Linked DNA regions of Homo sapiens: region 2 is linked to region 1. The links come from fine-mapping of genetic effects on gene expression. A gene starts in region 1. The other region holds a variant in brackets. All regions are shown on one strand. Distances are from middle to middle.

Region 1 (5,388 bases):
TATTAAAAAGAATGACATTTTTTTTTTTTTGTGAGTCAGATAAATTTTACATAAGGTTGAATAGTACTAGAGCTTCAGGATTTGATACCATGTTTTCTACAATTCTGCTCACTCTCTGTGGCCCCTTAATACTTCTTGTCCCTGCTTAAAACAACAACAACAACAGCAACAACAAATCTCTTCAGGCCATTTCTTTAATCCAAAGATACACTGTTATGTAGATGTCAACTGGGTCATATTTCACTATAAAAGAATAGAGCGACTTCATTAGCTTAAACATATATATCGACAATATGTTCGACTCATTCTTCTCATGGCTACCAATTAAAATCTAGCAGAAAACCATTAAATTGTTAAAATAAGATGCAAACTAAGCAGAATGAAGCAACTATAGGTTGTTTATCTATCACCAGGAAGACATGCTCAATCTTTAAGAGAAATCATGATCTCATGATCTACTTGCTCATATAACATTTCATTGAGTCAATCTAAAATTCCTCAAGTGCTCTCTAAAAATCTAGTTTCTGATAGGTGTTACATTTTTTGAAATTTTGGAGAAAACAACCACAGTCTCCTTCCCTATAGGTGTTTCTAGGAAGTTTGGTAAAATTTTGACAATTAGCAGTGGATTTCCCCAGCGTTCTTGAGAACTGGTCAAATTCTACTGAAGTTCAGACTTACAAATATTTTCCCCTCTTTTTTTTCCCAACTTATTTTTCTGCCTGGGGCGTTCGTTTTATAACCAAAGTTATACTGGCACCCCTGTTTTTAAAACCTTTTTGAGTCAACTGTGGTAACACCTAATTCCAGACTCAACCTTAGTGGCAGAAATTGTAAAGCAACTGAGAGGATTCATGCTCTGGTAGGCTTTTAAATATGAAGAGTTTACTTTCTCTTTTATCCTGTACAGTATAATCAGCAATAAAAGTTATCTCTTGGGGGATGAAGAATAAACCAAGGTATAAACTGCAAAAGACATGTTTACCTAGGTATATTGCATTACCCCCCAATGAAAAACTGCACATTCCTAAATATATAAATGAATAATAAGGACCACTTATCATGCATGCAATTTTTTTTTACTACTACTGTACTTTTGATTAAATTTCTGAAATAGTCCTAAAATAGAACTCATGAGTTCAGGTTGTGGCTGTAAACATAAAACTCTCTGTCAGTCCAAGTGGAAATGGTGTTGCCACCTTGAGTATTTGGAAAAATAGAAGAAAGAGTTTGCTACAAATATCCCAGTAGCAAAATATTTCCTGCCAATTGCACATGGTGCAATTTGTCATCTCACATCCATGCTCCTGGGCGTACCTGTCTACAGACGATCCTCTTGTTCCGACCAGTACTCAACAGAAGATGGCGAGGACCGTGTCTGTCGTGTCTATGCTCGTGGCTGCAACCCCAGCATCTAGCATAGCGTCAGGCACAGGACCAATGCTCAATGTGCCTGGCCCTGTGTGGAATAGAAGCAAATTAGTGCACAGCCCTAATGTGCAATGTGCGGTGAAACCTAACAGAGGAATGAGTTAGGTCAGGAGAGCAGCAGGCTGGGGAGTGTGTAACAAGCCTGGCCCACTTTTGGTATTTTGCCTAAAAATTTCCCATGCGGTGTTTCAAATAATATAAACAAATGAGGTGATTTAACTTCTAAAACTTTATTTTGCTTTGAAATGCAAACTTTTAACAAATAGCTACATAAATTCCTTTTTCGATAACCATGAAAGAGGACATATTCACTTAAAATAGAAATCATGCCAGGTAATAAAATGTTCAGTATGGTAATTCATTAAAGCAAGTACTAAGTACATTATTCACATGGCTATAAAAGCACCATCACTTTTCATGTGTTTATTAATTTTAGGCTCAAGGGTATTAAAATATTCTCGCTCTGTCTCTCCTTTTTCCCCCTTTTTTTTGGTTCCATTTCATCCTTTTTTCTGTCTACATGGAAATATGCTTACCTTGCTTTAGGTAAATACATTAGTGAACACAAAACCAAGTGACATATTTCAGCAAATTTGGGTACATTTTATATACAATGAAACAATCTTGGAAATCCAAGAACCCCTACCAGAAAGAAAAAGCAGAACGCCTCCTTCAGTTAGATAAAGTGCCTCTCTCTACTTTTTGTTGTTGTTTCTTTATTTGTAGATTTCTTGCTTAACTCTGAAACTTCCTGAGATATTTTATTAAACCCTATACCCTATTTTGGAAGCTCATTTATTTTCTAAGAAATCTTGGCAGAATATATGTTCTCATTTTAATTGCATAATTATCTGGAGCGGTGGAAAACAGATGTCTTATATTGATGTAAGCACTAACAAAACCATAGGTGTTGTTTTCATATGACTCACCTTGCCACGGATTTGCACATCTCACTTACTGAGCCAAAACACAAGAATAGAAGGTTATACCCAGAATCAACATGACCTGCCTAATGATGCAAGTTTAATGGGACCATTATTAGTTCTGTCCCTGCTAATAATAATAGAATTATAAGGAGTTTTGTTTCCCCTTTTTGTTGTTTACAAGTTTGTCATATATTTAGAAGTCATTGTTTCTTGCTTTTCCTAACCCTCCTCCCCACCCTGGGTGTAGTGAAATTATTAGGAGGTGGAGCACAGGGTATTGTTACAGCCCATGTCATAGAAAAAAGATATTTATTTGCTTACTCTGTGGTGAGTGAAGCATTTGATTCCCACTTACTGAGAAATGCGGTGGCCATGCGATGAGAAGCAGCGGCAGGGCATTGAGAACGAACCTTATCTCTGGGTGCACTTTTTAACTTAGAGGCGGTTCTTCACTCTTTCATCATCACGGCTGTAATGGTTAAAAACTCTCAGGCAGCTTCCTTCATGATGGGATGGCAACACGTTTTCTCTAAGCAAATATGGAGGAGGATTTGTACAGAGCAACTGTGCAGGAGCTGAACTGGAACTCCCAACAACCAAACTGCTGTCAAACGAAAGAATCTCTCGTCCAGATAGCCATTATCTGATAACTGTCTTGTCTGCATTTTCACTCTCTTTCAGAGTTGGTTTGCTCTCTTCAGGAGTGGGAATTAACTTTTACTCATGGTGACAAGGTAAACAAGTTTTCCGTGGGTACTCTAAAGCGTTGCATTTCTGTTTTGTTTATGTGCCTTGTTTGGCTACAGTAGTTACTGTGCCTCTGTCTCCTAGGCAACACTGACACATGATTTGATAGGAAGTAAGGCCTGAGGAGTACCCTCTCCCCACTCACTAGGCAATAGCAGCAATTCTCTGCCCTTAGAGAACCGCCTTAGCTCTTCTCTGCTTTGTGAGCAGGTCTGGTACCCTCAAGTAAATATGTGTGGGGGATGCGTTTCTGGGTGTGATAAATTGCTGCTGTCTGTCACCTGAGATCATCCTACACAAATTGTAACAATGGCAGTGTTGGTCTGTGGGTGCACCCAAGACCACCTTCCTCACGTCACATCCATTTTACCACCCAGCTGTCTTCAGAATGCTTCAATTTCAGCAAACCTCCTTGGCTTTTCCTGTCCTTTGTTCCATTTCTGTTTGATTCCTTCTGGGGAATTTCGAGGTGGCTAGCTAGCAAAGCTGGCTTTAAAAAAGTAGCTTAGCGTGTGAATAGATAAGAGTAGTGCTTATTGTATGACCCACGGCAGAGAGTAGTAAGTAGTTGCCTTTGGAAGGAGACCTTCAGTCTAGCCTAAGCGATGAGTGATGCAGGATTCCCTGTCTCCTTAGGAGCTGACTGGGAGAGTCTCAGACAGAGCAGATGCAGAAAGATGGTGGCCCAGGTTGGATCAGTGGTTCTGTTTGTGAGATGAGAGACAGGCTTCCTGGAGGCAATTTCCAAAAGGCTCAGTGTAGAAGCTGTGCAAGTACAGTCAGCGTGTGTGCCTGGGGTTCCCAAGGTGACCATTTTAGCAGTTGCCAAAATGAAACCGGAGCAATTGTTATCAGGTTGAAAATTGTTGTCAGACCTGAAAAATGTGATTTTCCTCGGGGAAAGGGGAAGTAAAACAAGGAACAGAGAGAGATCCATTTATTTGCTAAGAGGCACCCAGAAAAGTTTAGATATAGTATCAACTATCTGGCCTACTCTTTTAAGTCCTGCCCATCTGTTTATACATGTAACATATTTGTCACTAATGAAACCTTAAAAATACTTATTAATCATTGGGAAGACAGTAATTTCTGGCTTAAAAGCCTGCTTTAATGGCCTCTCTCCGTATATATATATGTATATTTTTTGAGATGAAGTCTCACTCTGTCGCCCAGGCTGGAGTGCAGTGGCGCAATCTCTGCTCACTGCAACCTCTGCCTCCCAGGTTCAAGCGATTCTCTTGCCTCAGCCTCCCGAGTAGTTGGGATTACAGGCACCCGCCACCACGCCTGGCTAATTTTTTGTATTTTTGGTAGAGATGGGGTTTCACCATGTTGGCCAGGCTTGTCTCAAATTCCTGACCTCAAGTGATGCACCCGCCTTGGCCTCTTAAAGTTCTGGGATTACAGGTGTGAGCCACCACACTCAGCCAATGGTCTGTATATTTCTTACATTCATTTACTCAAATATTCATTGAATGCACCTATGCACTATGCTAGGCGCGGTGAAGGGTATAAAGAAAATTAGATCTGGCTGCTCCTTCCATACCACCTTCCTGGGTATATGATCTTTAATTAACTACGCCAATAAAAACAAACAAACAAACAAAGCAAACACATGCTCATACAGAAACACTGTCTCTATGTTTCTGTATAAGCACAAACGAAAAAATGAGAGGCAGGGACTTTTTTTTTTTCTGGCGGGGGGTTGCGGGGGGGTTGTTTGTTTGTTTTGAGATGGAATTTCAGTCTTGTTGCCTAGGCTGGAGTGCAATGGCGCGATCTCAGCTCACCACAACCTCCACCTCCCGGGTTCAACCGATTCTCCTGCCTCAGCCTCCTGAGTAGCTGGGATTACAGGCCCCCGCCACCACACCCAGCTAATTTTTTTGTATTTTTAGTAGAGATGGGGTTTCACCACGCTGGTCAGTCTGGTCTTGAACTCCTGACAGGTGATCCACCCACCTCGGCCTCCCAAAGTGCTGGGATTACAGACGTGAGCCACTGAGCGAGGCCTGTTTGGTTTTTTATGGCAATAATTTAATTCTTTATAATAAAGTGTAAACGTCCAAAGACAGTATGATAGAACATGCTGGAAGAATTCACAAAAGTCGTTTTTTTAAAAAGTGAAATTAAATGTGTCTGCATCCTTTAAGCAAAACAATGTGAGTTTAGCCAAATAGAAATATGAATAGTAATAAAACGAAAATCATGGTTCAGTGGCTCTACCATGAACTTTGGTTAAAGGAGCTTATTAAAGGTATCAACTTCTAGAACTTGATTCCAT
Region 2 (5,388 bases), 190 kb before region 1:
CTGCAAAACTGTTTCTGGTGCTTTATTGAAAGAGCATGATAAGCAAGATATCAGTCACTGCCGCATTGCATAAACATAGCTCTTCTACATTGTAATATGGTTCTGGTGAGCCTGCATGTCTAGAATAGAGCCTGTATCACTGAAGTGCATGAAACTGCTGTGATAACTTGTCTCACAAAGCCTCAGGGAACACATTATTTGAGCAAGTAAACTCAAGGTGAAGTTCTTACCTTCTCAGTCCTGGGTCAGCTGTTGGACATACTGGGGAGGAAAGAGGAGACCATGTGCTTCTGCCGAACAAGACCCAAATCTGGGGAAAGCTGAACTTCCAGGGTGCACTTGCCCTGTTACCTTCTCCTAAGTACATGTTGTGGGAAAAGTAGGGAAAGGCGGTTAGCTGCTAGAGCTAGCTCAGCAGCAGGAGCTCATTCTATGTATCTCTTCTCAACCCAGCGTTCAGTGACTTCATGTTGATAGCTTGAAATTGGCCAAGGTAGGAATATTTACACCACAGAAATTGGCAAGGACTACAAACCAAATTCTTTGGTGTTTTATTTTATTGTTTTGTTTTATTTAGAGAGCCACTTGTAAAACATTTACTATCACACCAGTTCAGATGATTTAGTAGTATAAACAGCCCATGTGGTATTTCTTGGATAATTTGTTTCATTAGACTGAGGTACAACTCCAAAGAGGATGTCATGTCCTGTACACAGGACTGGAAGTTCACGAAGCCATTCATAACCCTATATGAAGGGGAGAAAGAGATGTAGTGTTCAGGCAAAGCCTCATGAGACGGGAATTTCCTGTTTTGAACTGAATCCCTGATTTCTTTCCTGCAACATACATTCATTCATCAAATATTGATTATCAACTTTTTTATAATACACAAAAGGGAAAGAGGCTCTTACTTGAATTATGCCAGAAGTCAGACAAAAGAAAGATTGTTGCTTTTTGGCTGGTCATGGTGGCTTACGCCTATAATCCCAGCACTTTGGGAGGCCAAGGCAGTAAGATGACTTGAAGTCAGGAGTTCAAGACCAGCCTGGCCAAGATGGTGAAACCCCATCTCTACTAAAAATACAAAAAAAAAAAAAATTGCCAGGTGTGGTGGCACACATCTGTAGTCCCAGCTACTCAGGAGGCTGAGGCAGGAGAATCACTTGAACCCAGAAGGCGGAGGCTGCAGTGAGCCAAGATTGCACCACTGCACTCCAGCCTGGGTGACAGAGCAAGACTCTGTCTCAGAAAAAAAAAAAAAAAAAAAAAAAACCAGATCGTTGCTTTTTAAAAATTGACTTAATTCTTCAATAGGTTCATTGATTAAATATCAACTTTGTATCAAGCACCGTGCCAGGCCCAAGGGATATACAGATCCAGGATACATATTCTTGCCTTCAAGGAACTGATGTTCTAATAATAGCTAATAACAAGAGCTACTATTTCCTAGCTACTGAAATTCTAGGGTTCTCACTATCATAGTCTAATGACTCTCTTCTGTTCATTTAGCAGACTTCGCATACTGTACACTACCTGCATAACCAAGGACTTGAGTTTGTATAAGAGTTTAAGACACTGACATGTAAATGAAATATCACCAATTTGGACTGATATAAGAAAGTCGATGTGATTACAGAGTGTTTAAAATGCAGACTGTCTTATTATCTTTATATGGATAGGATGGGTCAAAGGAGGTTAACAAGAATTTAGCAGCTGAAGCCCTACTTAAAGCATTATATAAGAATTAATTTTAATCAACATGTTGATTATATAAGAAATAATGTTCTAAAATGTCTTTAAAATATTTTTCTGGGAATAAGAGAAAACCTCCACCTATGTTTATGTAACTGATTTTTGAGTTTTCAAGTCTTTTATAAAAAAAAATAAAAGGCCATACCTAATCCTACTTGTTGGCAGAGAAAGATGAGAGATCTTGAAATGGCTCCCGTGCTCAAAGTATTTGTCAGTTTTCATAGAGCCCGAAGTGCCGATATTGAAGATGTATTTCTTATCCATACCAGCATGTAATACTCAGCAGGAAAAAGGAACAAAAACTCCAAAAGGTCACATACTGTATGATTACACACCACACACACACAGACTCTCTCTCACACACATATGTATCTAAAACATTCTCAGAATGACTAAACTATAGTAATGGGAAGAGGTCAGTGGTTTCCAGGAGTTACAGAGGGGAGGTAGAAGGAGGCTGGATATGACTGTGAAGGGGAAGCAAGAGGAAGATCCTTGTGACAATAGAATAGTTCCCTATCTCAGTTTCCATGGTGCTTTTGCCCAGTCTACATGTGTGATACATACACATTATACCAAGTATCAGTTTCTTTGTTTTTGTATTTAACTGTATCTACATAAGATGTAACCATTGGGGGAGACGGGGTGAAGGATGCACAGGACCTTTCTGTATTATATTTGGTACTTTCTGTGGGTCTATAATTATTTCAAAATAAACATTTTCTGTTTTCAAACAATGATGTGTTTCTCGGACTCTAAGAAAATTTTCAGCAGAAGAAAAGTCCGTGATAATGGTGACTGGGGTAGTGCAGTAGTGGAAATAGCAGTGGAGAGGGGACGTATGAAGTTCTTAATCTGGATCAAATACTGTGCTAAGTACTTTATGTTCAATACATGTATTATTTTATTTAATCCTCAAAATAATCTCATGATTGTAAAATTCTTTTGTTTCATAATAACGCCCAAA[G/A]GAATAGGAGTTTTTAAACCCAAGAGCTGCCCGTGGAAGAAGCATTATTAGAGCCATCAGGAAACAGGGCATTCAGTGAATTAGACCGAAACAATAGAAGGATGGATATTAGGAACACTAGAAGGGGCACATCATGCTAACATCAAAATGGAAAAATCATCTACTTCAGAGTTGTGTTGAGAGTCTCCTTGTGAATATCATTCATAATAAGAGAGCACTGACTTGTTTTTTAAAAGACAGGGTCTCACCGTCACCAAAGCTGCAGTGTAGTGGTGTGAGCCTAGCTCACTGCAGCCTTGAACTCCTGAGTTCAAGTGATCTTCTCACCTCAGCTTTCCAAGAAGCAAGGGCTACAGGCATTCACCACTACACCTGGCTAATGTTTTATTTTTTATAGAGACTGAGTCTCACTGTGTCACCGAGGCTGGTCTTGAACTCCTGGTTTCGAGTGATCCTCCCGCCTTGGCCTCCCAAAGTGCTGGGATTACAGGCGTGAGCCAACACACCTGACCTCAGAGAAGGCTGATTTTTGAATCAGCCATTCTAAAACAGTGGACCTAGAAAGAAGAAATCTTCTACCAGTAGCCTTCTTTCTAGATAGCAATCCAACAGGCCAAAAGAAATTTGGGGTCTCATAATCTGATACCAATATTTTCTCCTCAGTAGTGAAAAGATTTGAATTAATGCATTTACTCTAAGCTTGTTTTTAGGGAATGATGAGGTAATAGTTAAAGAAAGTAGACAACGGTTAAAGTAATAAGAAATGCTGAACTTCCAAAAAAGCTGGCCTTAATATTCTCCATCAACTGGCAGTGTTCCCAGTGATGCTTCTATCACAGACTGTGATAGAACTGGCATTACACAATAATCCTTTCTTCTTCAATAATGTAGTAAGACATCACATCCATATATTTCCCAAATAGGACTGCCACTGCATATCTAGTTAAGGAGCTATCATTCTACTGTTTCTCTTGAGAAATGACACTAAAGCAAAAAACTTTTAAGTTTTTGAGGGGTTCTATTGGCCACTTAAAATACCCTTGATATATGACCAAAATTCATTTAACTAACTAAAAACAAATAGTTGTGAATTACATAGAGGGCTTCTCTCAGCCAGATGCTTCTCATAGATAATCTAATAAAGATCATTGAAAAATAATAAAAAGTTGCATTTCTCACATGGAGGAGGACCCATAATACAGTTCATTCTAATACTGAGGGAGTGGTGCCCTCTAGCAGTGCATGTGAGAAATATTATCATTTAAGTATATTAAATACAGCAAATAAGGAGCTCCCAGTATCTCAGCTACTCTCAGACATAAGGGGCAATTTGACAGTTCTGAGCTACTAGAAACTACTGAAGTTTCACTTCCATGTGCACTAATTTTTTAAGTGCCAGCGAAGGTTAGATTCTAATAGTGCCCTTCTGGGGATTTACCAATAACTTTTAAAACCTCATTACCTGTGAATGTCAAATAGAACAGGTCCCTTTCACTTTTCCTTCAAACCTCCCCTAGGTCAGTGTTTGAGGATGAGAATAAAGGGTACAAATAGGAAAAAGGATCATCCTACAAGCTGAACAGCATCTCTGGTGCAAAAGATGCTCACAAAATGGGAGAATGTTAAGAAATCCATTAATAGCTCAAGTATTCAAAAACTGATGGAGTTCTGACAATTTTCCCTTAAAAGTACCACAGTTTATGGTTACAACTGATAAATTTGCAGGGTTAGATAACTTCAGAAGCTAATTAAGTAAATTGAGTTAACAAAAGAAAAGAACTTGATTTTTTTTTTTTTTTTTTTTTTGAGACGGAGTCTAGCTCTGTCCCCCAGGCTGGAGTGCAGTGGCACGATCTTGGCTCACTGCAATCTCCACCTCCCAGGTTAAAGCGCTTCTTATGCCTCAGCCTCCCCAGTAGTTGGATTACAGAGGTGCAACACCACGCCCAGCTAATTTTGTATTTTTAGTAGAGACGGGGTTTTGCCATGTTGGCCAGGCTGGTCTCGAACTCCTGGCCTCATGTGATCTGCCCACCTCAGCCTCCCAAAGTGCTGGGATTACAGACATGAGCCATCATGCCCGGCCTTGAATTTTTAATTCCATTTTAATTAGTGAAAGATGTTCCAGCCAGTCTTATCTCGATAAGATATCCAAAAGATTATATGCACACCAATAGTACATTACAAATGCTTTTGAAACTGAAAGGTGTGTTTTCTGGTTTCTGTGTGTCTGATATGCTATTTCAAATCCTGTAAAAGCAAAATGTAGTTTTTTGACAAATATGCCCATGTGTTGTGCACAGTTTGATTTATGTAAACTCATTTCAAATGCTACTGCAGAATTTCTCCTGAATGGATGAAAAATGTCCGCCTAAAGTGATAAAATTATATGTGTAGAAAGATACAGTTTTAAGAAGGGATTTTTATATGATACAGATTTGTAACTCTATTTCACAAAATATCATTTAAAAAAAAACTTCAAGAATACCTGACTTTTTTTTTTTACATTTTTCTGTCAGTTCAGGGGTTTGCATTGAGTTTGCTCTGCTGAAACACTTTTCTGTGACTTAGCTTATATGGGATTGGTAAGTAGGGGAATGATGTCAGTATAACATAGACCCTGGATTTGTTCAGGTATTTTACTAAGTAGCAGCAACCAAACACAAAGC

What was found. PIP is the estimated chance that this variant, and not a neighbour inherited with it, causes the effect. A credible set is the group of variants that fine-mapping cannot tell apart.
Region 2: its variant is the best candidate, but not a certain one, in a credible set for the expression of IL5RA in whole blood (INTERVAL, PIP 0.65).

The regions. Positions count from the first base shown.
Region 1 is chr3:3,107,233-3,112,620 of GRCh38, forward strand. It overlaps IL5RA (interleukin 5 receptor subunit alpha), which reads right to left and starts at 3,142. Exons shown (of 12, transcript NM_175726.4): 1 at 2,713-3,142; 2 at 1,318-1,459. RefSeq lists a silencer at 2,308-2,427 and an enhancer at 2,508-2,587.
Region 2 is chr3:2,918,106-2,923,493 of GRCh38, forward strand. The region is part of intron 12 of CNTN4 (contactin 4); the gene reads left to right. Among named protein-coding and RNA genes, the nearest start is that of CNTN4-AS1, 140 kb to the right of the region's middle. RefSeq lists an enhancer at 3,854-3,903. The variant G/A (reference allele first, on the strand shown) is at 2,720.